Homo sapiens: one gene and its partners. The protein of the gene in region 3 purifies or fractionates together with the protein of the main gene of each other region. This does not show direct contact. Each region holds a gene or a part of one and is shown on either strand. Other genes may lie near its edges.

Evidence for each region.
Region 1: the proteins of TMEM150A (region 3) and HELLS purify together in Homo sapiens (affinity purification with mass spectrometry; 2 studies listed by BioGRID and IntAct, with this or other methods). This does not show direct contact.
Region 2: the proteins of TMEM150A (region 3) and ACOX3 purify together in Homo sapiens (affinity purification with mass spectrometry; 3 studies listed by BioGRID and IntAct, with this or other methods). This does not show direct contact.

What each region holds. Positions count from the first base shown.
Region 1 is NC_000010.11:94,590,659-94,594,406, reverse strand, and holds part of HELLS (lymphoid-specific helicase), read right to left. Parts: coding exon 3,631-3,748; intron 2,179-3,630; coding exon 2,095-2,178; intron 2,013-2,094; coding exon 1,893-2,012; intron 909-1,892; coding exon 792-908; intron 1-791. UniProt on the Homo sapiens protein: Plays an essential role in normal development and survival. Involved in regulation of the expansion or survival of lymphoid cells. Required for de novo or maintenance DNA methylation. May control silencing of the imprinted CDKN1C gene through DNA methylation.
Region 2 is NC_000004.12:8,433,976-8,437,723, forward strand, and holds part of ACOX3 (peroxisomal acyl-coenzyme A oxidase 3), read right to left. Parts: intron 1,993-3,748; exon of another isoform or gene 1,948-1,992; intron 1-1,947. UniProt on the Homo sapiens protein: Oxidizes the CoA-esters of 2-methyl-branched fatty acids.
Region 3 is NC_000002.12:85,600,562-85,604,309, forward strand, and holds the start of TMEM150A (transmembrane protein 150A isoform 1 precursor), read right to left. Parts: upstream 2,138-3,748; 5' UTR 2,046-2,137; intron 1,834-2,045; exon of another isoform or gene 1,504-1,833; 5' UTR 1,388-1,503; coding exon 1,323-1,387; intron 1,209-1,322; exon of another isoform or gene 997-1,208; intron 922-996; coding exon 874-921; exon of another isoform or gene 547-873; coding exon 460-546; intron 231-459; exon of another isoform or gene 1-230. UniProt on the Homo sapiens protein: Regulates localization of phosphatidylinositol 4-kinase (PI4K) to the plasma membrane, possibly by reducing the association of TTC7 (TTC7A or TTC7B) with the PI4K complex. Acts as a regulator of phosphatidylinositol 4-phosphate (PtdIns(4)P) synthesis.

The DNA of each region.
Region 1 (3,748 bases), on a different chromosome or scaffold from region 3:
ACAAGACCAGCGTGGGCAAACAGTGAGACGTGGTCTCACTAATTTTTACATTTTTTGTGGGCATGGTAGCACACCCATAGACCCAGCTACTTGAGAGAATGAGGTGGGAGGATCACTTGAATCCAAAAGGTCAAGGCTACTGAGCCGTGATGGTGCCACTGCACTCAAGCCTGGGTGATAGTGAGACCCTGTCACTAAAAACAAAAGTAAAAAAAAATTTTCAATTTTTACTTGCAAAAAACTTTATGAAGAAATAACTCTTAGCTGAAAATGGGTATCTTTTCAAAATAGATAAGTAAATTTGTAACATGTACCATTAAAAATTAAAAATTCAGAATGGCCGGGCGCGGTGGCTCATGCTGGTAATCCCAGCACTTAATCCCAGCCTGGGCAACAAGAGCAAAACTCCTTCTCAAAAAAAAAAAAAAAAAAAAATTCAGAATGGAGGCTGGGTGTGGTGGCTCAAGCCTGTAATGCCAGCACTTTGGGAGGCCGAGGTGGGCGGATCACCTGAGGTCAGGATTCAAGAGAGCCTGGCCAACATGGCAAAACCCCGTCTCTACTAAAAACACAAAAATTAGCCAGGCATTGTGGTGTACACCTATAGTCACAGCTACTCAGGGGGCTGAGGCAAGAGAATCACTTGAACCCAGGAGGTGAAGGTTGCAGTGAGCCGAGATCGTGCCACTGCACTCCAGCCTGGGCAACAGAGTGAGACTCCATTTCAAAAAAAAAAAAAAATTCAAAATGGAAATATAATCAGCATATTCCTTGCTATACTTCCAACTTACCCAATCACTATCATAAATGATAACTGTATCTGCTGCAGTCAGATTAATGCCCAGGCCACCAGCTCGTGTACTCACTAAGAAGATAAACACCTCTGGATCCGTGTTGAAGCTGTGCATCTAAAAGCAAAAAGGATGTAAATACAACAGATTAAAATAAATTAACCAACAAGACTGAAGGAGAAAAATGTTTTCAATTACAACTATTAAAGACTTAAACAAAGGAGGCCAAACAAATCATTCAGATCTATAAAACAATTATGTTAACAAAACCTGTGCTGTTAGCTTTATCGTCCAAGCACCTATATTAAAGAGATCTTAATTTTGTTAAAAACCATGTATCACAACAATGTTTAAATAAGAAAAGCTAATATCAAAAAATGATGAAAAAATTGTAGTTGTCTAAACACATGGGGTGGGTGCAGGGGAGAATTGACTAGAAGGGGGCACAGGAAACTTTCTGGGCTGATGGTAACATTCTATATCTTAATAGGGGTTAGGTATAAATTTACATATGCATTTGTCAGAAAGATTCAGCAAATGTATACATTATTTGCTTCAGTATGTGTAAATTTTACCCCAAAAGATAAAATATGCTGAAGTCATTACGGAAAAGGGTAGTATCATCTATATTTTATTTTTAAATGCACCAAAAAACCAGGATTAAATGCTGAATGGATACAGCAAGGCTGCTATTACAGGAAATGTGTTTTTAAAAAGGTATAGTCAAATGTTAACAGCAGATTGTAGGCGGATTTACAGTTGCTTTTTTTTTTTCAACTTTGCCATATAGTTGATATTTTCATAATAGAAAGTTGAGGACAGGGCAAAAAGGCAAAAAATTTCCTGCTATCCCAATATTCTTACAGTGATGGTTAAGTAGGATATTATTAATAAGATTGTGCCAGAAGATATATATATTTGTGAATCAAAAATTAAGACTTCTTAGTACTAAATCAAAATGTTTGTTTTTGATAAAACCACAGGGTTTCTGGTCATTTCTATCTTTTTATCAATTTGTGGGTCTATTTGGAATATTACTTCAGAAATCAAGATAGGAATTATAAAAGAATAGTTTGGTATGTATGACATAAGTAGTCTTACGTTTTTTTCTCTCTCTGAGTAAGACATGGACCCATCAAGCCTGCTGAAGTTGAAATCTCTGAGATGGCAGTAATCCATCAAAATGTCCAACATGCTTGTCATTTGTGAAAAAAGCAGCACCTGAAATTAAACATATCTTAATATTTCTAATGATTGATAAAAAAATAATTGAACAATCCAAAATTCCAATCAAAAGTACCACCTTGTGACCTCTTTTTTTTAGTTCTGGCAGCATTCGATCCAAAATCAAGAACTTCCCAGAATTTGTTACCAATTCTTCATCGATCTTAAGGAGGGGCAAAGGAAGAAAAAATAGAGAGAAAACTGTTATTTGCTTTGTTAAAACAAAAGCCATTTGGAAAGTTCAATTTTCAAAGCCAAGTCACTTAAAAAACTTAAAAACTGACCTGTTATTCAATCTTTGTAAAATCAGAAGATAGTTATTACTCAAAGACATACTCTAGAATGTAAAACCAGCAATTTCACAAAAACAAAGTACAAATATAACTTTGATCTAACCTCAACACTCCTCTCTCAAAGTCATTGTGAAAGAAAACAATTATGTCAAACTTAATGGGTACATACTCAGGCTTATTCTTTATAAGTGAGTTATTTCCAACTAAATGTATATGTAAACTACTGCTAGAATTCTTACCAGAAATTAAGAGAAAATACAGGAGCTGATAAGTAATCTAAATATTGTGGACAAAGACTTTTTCACCTTCTGGTGAAATTCCCTCATGAGAGAGCTACTTTCATTTGAGTGGGAAAGTTTTGTCTTCCTTCTTACTCTAATAAAGATGTAAAGCAGTGCCTCTCAAATGGGGACAATTTTGCCCTCCACCTATCCCCAGGGTATATTTGGCAGCGGCAGCAAACTTTTTAGTTGTCATAACTGAGGGAAGTGAATACTAGTGGCATCTAATGGGTAGAAGACAGGGATGCTGCTAAATGTCCTAAGTGCACAGAACATTACCTCCTAAGAAAGAATTATCTGGCCCAAAATGTCAATATTGCCAGGAGTGGAAAAGCCTATTGTAAACTACCTTGAAACAACTGTGATTGAGGGTTACTAAGAATTTATTTCTATTGATATTATGCTATCATTCTATCAACTACCCAAGAAAGCAACTTCATTTACTTAATTTGAAAACCTCCAAATCAAAACTGGTTTTATTCTATGGCTACCTGTTGATCTTTAAGCAATGAGCAACCAGGCTGATTTTGATAAGCCAAATATTAATGATAAAAGAAATAGTGAAAAGATGACCACTCTCTCTAAAATATAACAAGTAAACATGCAGAGTACAAATCAATTACTAAATTTAGAATTCTTAGTTGTTCACATAAAATATGTAAATAAAAATATAAGTTGCATAGAGGCCAAGCGTGGTGGCTCTTGCCTGTAATCCTAGCACTCTGGGAAGCTGAGGCAGGATTGCCTGAGAAACCAGGAAGTTTGAGACCAGCCTGAGAAACATAGCAAGACCCTGTCTCTATAAAAAATAAAAAAATTTAAAAAACTAGTTGCTCATAGAAAGTGACCATTTTTCTAACCCTGATAAGGTTCTCTGAAATTTCGGAAAGAAGACTGTCTCAGCTTACTGAAGGATTACAATCTTCATGACAAATAGCACCATACTTATTTTTAATAATTATAATCAAAAAAAGTAACACTTTCCACCAATATAAAAGTAATGGAAATCAAAACAGTAAATTAGAATTAAACAGTATTCACCTTAAATTCTTGTGTAACAGGGTCTATAGGATATTCAATCAAATATGGATGATTACAACATTTACGAAGTAGCATCATTATATTCTGCAGCTTCAGATTAACTTCAGATTCTACAGGG
Region 2 (3,748 bases), on a different chromosome or scaffold from region 3:
AAAGTTAGAAAGAAACAAAAGTAAGATAAATAGCCAGACAACCTTGGCACCACCACGTGGCCCTAGGAGTTAAAATAATAATAATAATAATAATAACATCAACCCCTGACCTAAACTACTTGTGTTATCTTTAAATTCCAGACATTGTATGAAAAAGCATTGCAAAACTTTCTGTTCTGTTAGCTGATCCATGTAGCCCCCAGTCACGTTTCCCACACTTGCTCGATTTATCACGACCCTTTCACATGGACCCCTTAAAGTTGTAAGCCTTTAAACAGGCCAAGAATTTCTTTTTCGGGGGGCTCCGCTCTTAAGCCACAAGTCTGCCAGTGCTTCCGGCCGAATAAACCTCTTTCTTCTTTAATCCGGTGTCTGAGGAGTTTTGTCTGCAGCTCGTCCTGCTACATTTCTTGGTTCCCTGACTGAGAAGCGAGGTGATTAAGGGACGTTCAAGCCAGCCCCTTAGGCAGCTTATGCCTGCCCTGTAGAGCATCCCTGTGGGGGGCTCCAGCCAGCTTGCGCGATGCAGATCCTGAGAGTGCTCCCGGGTAGGCATTTGCCCCCGTGGAATGCCTCGTCAGAGTGGTGCATGGCAAGCCCCCGTGGAGGATCAACGCAGTGGCTGAACACTGGGAAGGAACTAGCACTTTAAGTCTGGACATTTGAAACTTGGTAAGACTGGTCTTTGGAACTTGCACACTCCATTTGAGTGGAAGCGTGGCCTGATCACCCATGGCGTGCCTGTACCGGCACTTTGGTTTTTGTTTTTGACTTGACTTGAAATGCTTGATACTTTGGTTTTTGTTTTTGACTTGACTTGAATTACTTGATAAACAGGCGTGCCTTTATTGGCACTTTGGCTTTGGTTCTGATTTTGACTTGGCTTAAATTCCTTGACAAACAGGTGTGCCTTTAATGACACTTTGGTTTTAGTTTTGATTTTCCTTTAGTGTGAATTAGACGAGTGAGTAACCTTTTACCCTTTCCTTCTTGTAGTGTGAATGTTGTTTTGTCTCAAGAGAAAAATAGGTCAAACACAAAGTAAGCCCACTCCGCTAGAAACTGTGTTAAAAAAAAATTTCAAGAAGAAAAATAAAAGGAAAGTCATCTAATCATCAAAACTTACTCTATTAAAATGCATGTTACAGAACCTTAAGAAAGGTTTTGCAGGGGATTACAGAGGTTAAGCCCCCAGAGGTTAAGAACTCTATGTGAATTAGAATTGCCCTCTTTTGCTGGGCGCGGTGGCTCACGCCTATAATCCCAGCACTTTGGGAGGCCGAGGCGGGCAGATCACGAGGTCAGGAGATTGAGACCATCCTGACTAATAGGGTGAAACCCCATCTCTACTAAAAATACAAAAACAAAAAATTAGCCAGGCGTGCTGGCGGGCACCTGTAGTCCCAGCTACTCAAGAGGCTGAGGCAGGAGAATTGCATGAACCTGGCAGGCGGAGCTTGCAGTGAGTGGAGATTGTGCCACTGCACTCCAGCCTGGGCAACAGAGCGAGACTCCGTCTCAAAAAAAAGAAAAAAAAAAAAGAATTGCCCTCTTTTGGTGTTGGATGGCCCACCGAAGGAACTACAGACAGGGAACAATTGGCCATGTATTTAAGGTGGTGACAGGGGTTGGAGGACAGCCAGTGGACCTAGATCAATTCCTTTATATTGATTCATGGTTAAATATAATATAGACAAAAACCAGCATAAATTTAGCCCTGTTTAACAGCTTATTGCAAAAAAGCCAAAAGTGAAAGTAAGAACAGCTGCACCAGCAGACACAGAGTTGAAAAGGGGAGTCCCAGAAAGAGCAAGAGAAGCCAGTTTTGCAGGAGCCGCCAGAGATAACAGAAATTCTTTCTCCATATGGCCCAGCCTACCCCCCTTTACCGAGGCCAACAGCCCCCTGAGAAACGAGATTAAGGAGCTAACATGCCCCAGGTCTCACCTTGAAGGGGAAGATCGGAGCCTCAAGAGGCCAAGGAAGGAAGTCAAGATAGTCAAGTGGGCCCTCTCAGATCTGGTCTTGCTGGAGCTATGCAAATGCCTCTCAGGGAGACACGAGGACCTGTCTATTATAATGACCAAGCCCACATCCAGGGGGTGGGGCAACAGACTTTCATCTATCAGCCCTTTTTAACCATTGATCTACTAAACTGGAAACACCCTGAACCCGCCACCTTGTTCCCAGCAGCTAGAGCCCTGTCGAGCATTAACTGTGTAGAGGTGTTGGACTCAAGTTTACTCTAGCAGACCTGACCTCCGAGACCAGCCTTGGGCATCAGTAGACTGGGAGCTATACATGGACGGGAGCAGCTTCATCAACCCACAAGGAGAGAGATGTGCAGGATATGCAGTGATAACCCTGGACACTGTCGTTAAGCTGAGCTCATTGCTTTAATTCAGGCCTTAGAACTCAGTGAAGGTAAGACTAAACATTTACACTGACTCTCAGTATGCCTGTTTAACCCTCCAACTGCATGGAGAATTATATTTAAAAAAGGGCCTGTTAAGATCTAGGAAAAAGGGGAAAAAAGACCCAGAGAATGCAACTCAGCTTCAGCATTTGCAGCAGTACTAAGAGGCACTTCTGCAGAGGCTAAGAGGTAGTAGAAAAAAAGCAATTAATATAAAAAAGATTTCAGAAGTGCTTCAAGGAGCTGACAAGAGCCTAAGTCAGTTTTATAAGAGACTCTGTAAAGCATTCTGGCTTTACATCCTATTTAACCCTGAGGCTGGTGGCTCACGCCTATAATCCCAGCCCTTTGGAAGGCCGAGGTGGGCAGATCAAGAGGTCAGGAGATCGAGACCATCCTGGCTAACATGGTGAAACCCTGTCTCTACTAAAAAAAAAAAAACACAAAAAAATTAGCTGGGCGTGGTGGCGGGTAGCTGTAGTCCCAGCTACTCGGGAGGCTGAGGCAGGAGAATTGTGTGAACCTGGGAGGTGGAGTTTGCAGTGAGCCGAGATCACACCACTGCACTCCAGCCTTGGCAACAGAGCGAGACTCCATCTCAAAAAAAAAAAAAAAATCAGCATATATATATATTCGAAAAAATATATATAAATATATATATACAAATATATGTAAATATATAGAAATATATACACGTAAATATATATATTTACATATATATGTAAAAAAATATATGTAAATATATATATAAATATATATATAGTGAATACTTCGTTTGTAAAGCAAGCCCAGGGTAACATCAAGCAGAAGCTACAGGCATGAATATCACCCAGTCTATAAAAGTGGCCACCAAGGCGTATGTTAGCTGTGACCAAGGAACAAAACAGGAAAGAGCAAAAGCAACAAGTGCGGCAGCTAGGCACGCCAAGGGTTAAATTCCTCTCCCCGGCTCAGCTCTATCTAGAAAAAAAGAGGAGGCTAGAGACCGGTGCCAAGAGAAGAGCAAAACAAAAAGAAAGACTCACAGTAAGTGTAAAAAAGAGAATCAGAAGAAAATGGGAGAGACAGCAGTGCGCGGGGGCAGGGCCTGTGCCACTGCCTGGCCCCGCCAGGTGGCCATAGAAGCAGGAGAACTCAGGAAGGAAAAAGAAAAACAAAGACTTAAGGAAAAAGGCCAATCTGTTAGCAACAGCTCTTATAAAAAGAGAGATTAGCAATGCGAGAGGACGTGGACACGGATGTAGACGTGGAAGAAGTCAAGTTAGGCAAGGATTCGAGAGCCGGCCAAGGCTAGAGAGACATTAATGTGTGAGATGAAAAAAGAAAGGACAC
Region 3 (3,748 bases):
CAACTGGTTCCAGGCTGGGCCCCCAAAGCAGAGCTCATGTGTGTGAGAGAGAAGGGAGTGCCCAGGAGTGTTCGGGCAACCCTGACACTCTTTGCTGAGCCCTGCGGCTGGTTTGGCTATCCTTGAGCCAGAACACGGGCTGGGCAATCTGAGGGCTCCAGCTTAAATCCAGGTGCCTCCGCTTATTAGCTGTGTGACCTGGATGAGGAAGACTGAGCCTGTTTCCTCACCTATAAAATGGTGAAAACAATACCTGCCTCACTCCTGGGAGGATGAAAAGAGACAATGCATATAAAGCACTCAGCAGAGTGCCTGCCCCACAGTAACTGTCAAGTAGTGTTGTTATTAAGTGGCTCTTAGGATACTTATTGTTCCTGAGACCCAAGGACAGCTCTTTGCTTGAGGGGCTGTCTGGGAGGCCCTTAGATCTCCCTGACCGGCCCAATGTCCAGGCCTTACCTGATGAGGGGGACATCGTCCAGGGTGCAGCAGGTCTTGGGACCCCCTTGCTCAGCAGGGTCAGGAGGGCAGGACTCGTTGTAGGACCTGGCAGGCAGGACAGGGAGTAGACTGGGGGAAGGGACTGCCCCCAGGCCCTTGGCCTATAGCCTCAGGCCTCAAAGAGGACTCTCTCCCAGACCTCCCCTACAGGGACAGAAGATCCCACTCCCCAGTGCCCGCCTGAAGCAGTAACCAAAGGGGCAAAGGGATAGTGGGAAGTGGGTAGGTGGCAAGAAGCCATGCCTGGGGACCAATTTCAGAGAAGAGCAGTGAGGCTCAGGGTTGCAGTCTGGCTCGTGGCAGCCTCAGGCCCAAGAGGGGACAGAGATGAAGGAAGCTTTAGAGCAAGGTTGTCTGCAGAGTCCTTCATACCAGTTCTCCACAGGGCATACATGGTGGTTCATCACAGCCATGGCATACCTGTGGGAACAGAACTGTCACCCTGGCAGCCTTCCCGAGCCCCACTCAACCCACCCCATGACCCTTCTCTTCAACCTTGATTTCTGGCCCCATTCAGCCTCATTATTGTTGCTGGGGACTCAAGTTGAGGTCCCTAAGGCTTGATGCCACACCAGCACCTGCAGCATGCCCCCAGCTACAGGCCCTCTGGAAATTGCCCTGGCTAGAAGTATATTTGTCAGGGCCACCCTGCTGGACAGCAGTGGTGCCAGCTTGTCCCAAGGGGCTGTGTGCCCAGGCACCAAGTCAGGCTTTTGAGACACCCAGAGTGACCCTGGGTACCACCGTGGCTATGACAGGACAAGAGACTTTGTGTGCGTCATCAAGCTCCTGTTGCCCCCCGGGCACCCCCCTTTACTCACACAGTCCATATGCCAGTGATGGAGAACGCTGACAGGCTGACAGGCAGGAGGATCCAGGCGGTCATGAGGGAGGGGAGCCAGGGTGGTGGTGGTGTTGGGGGGAGGACAAGAGGTAGATGGGGAAGTGGGGGCGGACCAGCTACCTTGAGATGTTTCTGCCACAACCATCAGCTGTCCTGGCCTGGTGGAGAGAGATCAAAGTCCAGGAGTGGGTAACTGGCCGGGAAGGGGGAGGGGAAGGGGGTCAACACCTTATCCAGCGCTCCCGTTGGGTCTCTGAGCGTCCAAAGTTTGGGCTGAGCCCACGGCAGAACGTGAACACCCTCTGGCACTGGGGGCCTCCGCGGTCAACCCAAATGCCACCGGCGTGCTGAGAGACGCAGGCGGACCGTAACATCTGGAAGGGAGTTACCCTCCTTCTGAGGGACCAGGGCTGGGAGAAGGGCTGGACAACCGAAGAGGCCACGCCAAGGAGAGGCTGGGTGCCGGCCCAGTGGAGCGGTGGCGAGTCGGCGGCGCGCAGGCAACCACCTGACCATCGGCGCCCTGGGCGAGGGGCGGGTTCACGCGGAAAGCCCAGCCCGGCCCGGCCCCCGCTCGCCTGGGCGCGGGGACCCCGGCTGGGGCCGGACCCTGCGGCCGGCGACCCCCCAGGACCCGGGACGCGAGAGTCCCCAGGTGATTCCTGGAAGCCCGGAGGAAGGGAAGGAGCCCAGTACGCACCTCCCCGGAGCGCCCCGCCGCCGCCGCACCCTGCTCGGCCCCCTCGTGGCGCCGACTCTAGCTGCGGCCCTCGGAGCAGCCCTGAAAGGTTTAAAGGGCCGAGCGGCCCCGCCCCTGGAGGCCCCAGGCCTCGCCGCGCCGCCCGCCGGGACGTGGAGTCCGCGCAGCCCCGGCCTCGGTGCCCGCGCCCTGCCCGAGACTACAACTCCCGAGCCCCCGCGCCCGCGTCACGGGGGAAACGTGGGCGGTGTCCCAACTTCGGAGGACCTGGGCGCGGAGGGCTGTGGCGTGAAGACCGCTCTAAAACCGAGATGACTAGAGGTTCCGTTTAACCGATTCCTGCCGGGGAAGCGTCAGCAGGTGGGGATCTCGGGGCAGCCTGCATTCCAGCTCTACCTGGGATTGTCGCCGTGCACATGGCTGGAGGAGCGTCTCTCCGCCACTGCGCACATTTTGCAGCCTGCACCGGCCAACGGTGAGTCCTCTAGGAAGCTCTCTCAACGTGGCGCCCCATGCCTGCCTCTGGCCAGGGCTGCGGTGGGTCCAGAGAAGCAGACACAAAGACTTGGCTGTTTCTTAAGAAATCCAAGCGCCTGGGATTTGGCTTATGGTTCCTGTGGCTCAGCAAACTCCGGAGGAGGGCTGCTTTCATTAGATACTTTTTGCTTTCCTGCATACAAGTACACAATGTACTAGCCAGAAATCAGTGTCCAAGACGTGTTTCCCGACTGATCAACACTTATTTGAAATAAGACGGCAGAGACCAGAGGACATCCATTCTAAATAGACACATGTAGGTGTCAGTGTAGAGTAGGTAAGGATTAACATGGCCAGTGTTGGTAAGCAAAGAGGGGAAGGTGAGAGACCCGGAGGAATCTGGGAAAAGGAAACAGGATAGTGTGGGAAAAATTACTGACCAGCTTCACCAAAAACTTACAGGCTATGAGTGCATTCCTGGATGTTTCTTTTTTTTTTACTTTTTCTTTTTCTTTTTTTTTTTTTTGAGACGGAGTCTCGCTCTGTCGCCCAGGCTGGAGTGCAGTGGCGCGATCTCGGCTCACTGTAAGCTCCGCCTCACGGGTTCACGCCATTCTCCTGCCTCAGCCTCCCGAGTAGCTGGGAACTACAGGCGCCCGCCACCTCACCCGGCTAATTTTTTTGTATTTTTAGTAGAGACGGGGTTTCACCATGTTAGCCAGGATGGTCTCGATCTCCTGACCTCGTGATCCGCCCGCCTCGGCCTCCCAAAGTGCTGGGATTACAGGCGTGGGCCACTGCGCCTGGCCCGGATGTTTCTTAAATTATTGCAAGGGTGGAAATACTTTCACATATCAGAAGTGTGCCTGGCATTCTGTCTCAAAGGCGGTCCCAGCATCTGTTGGAGCCCTTGTGAGATGACAGATCATCACCTGAATGGTGCACAGGCGCAGGTTGCCCAGCGTGGGGAGCTGAAGTTTGGCAACACTGGTGAGGCAAAGGCTATGTGAAACAACAGGGTCCTGTGCTTTAGAGAAGTAGAGCAGAATAAACTGCACAATGACTTGAAGAGGGAGAAACCTTCTTGGACCCAGTGGAAAGCAGAAATGGAAGCAGAAAACCTGTTGGAGAGCCCTTTTTCTTTTGAGACAGAGTTTCACTTGTTGCCCAGGCTGGAATGCAATGGTGCAATCTCGGCTCACTGTTACCTCTGCCTCCTGTGTTCA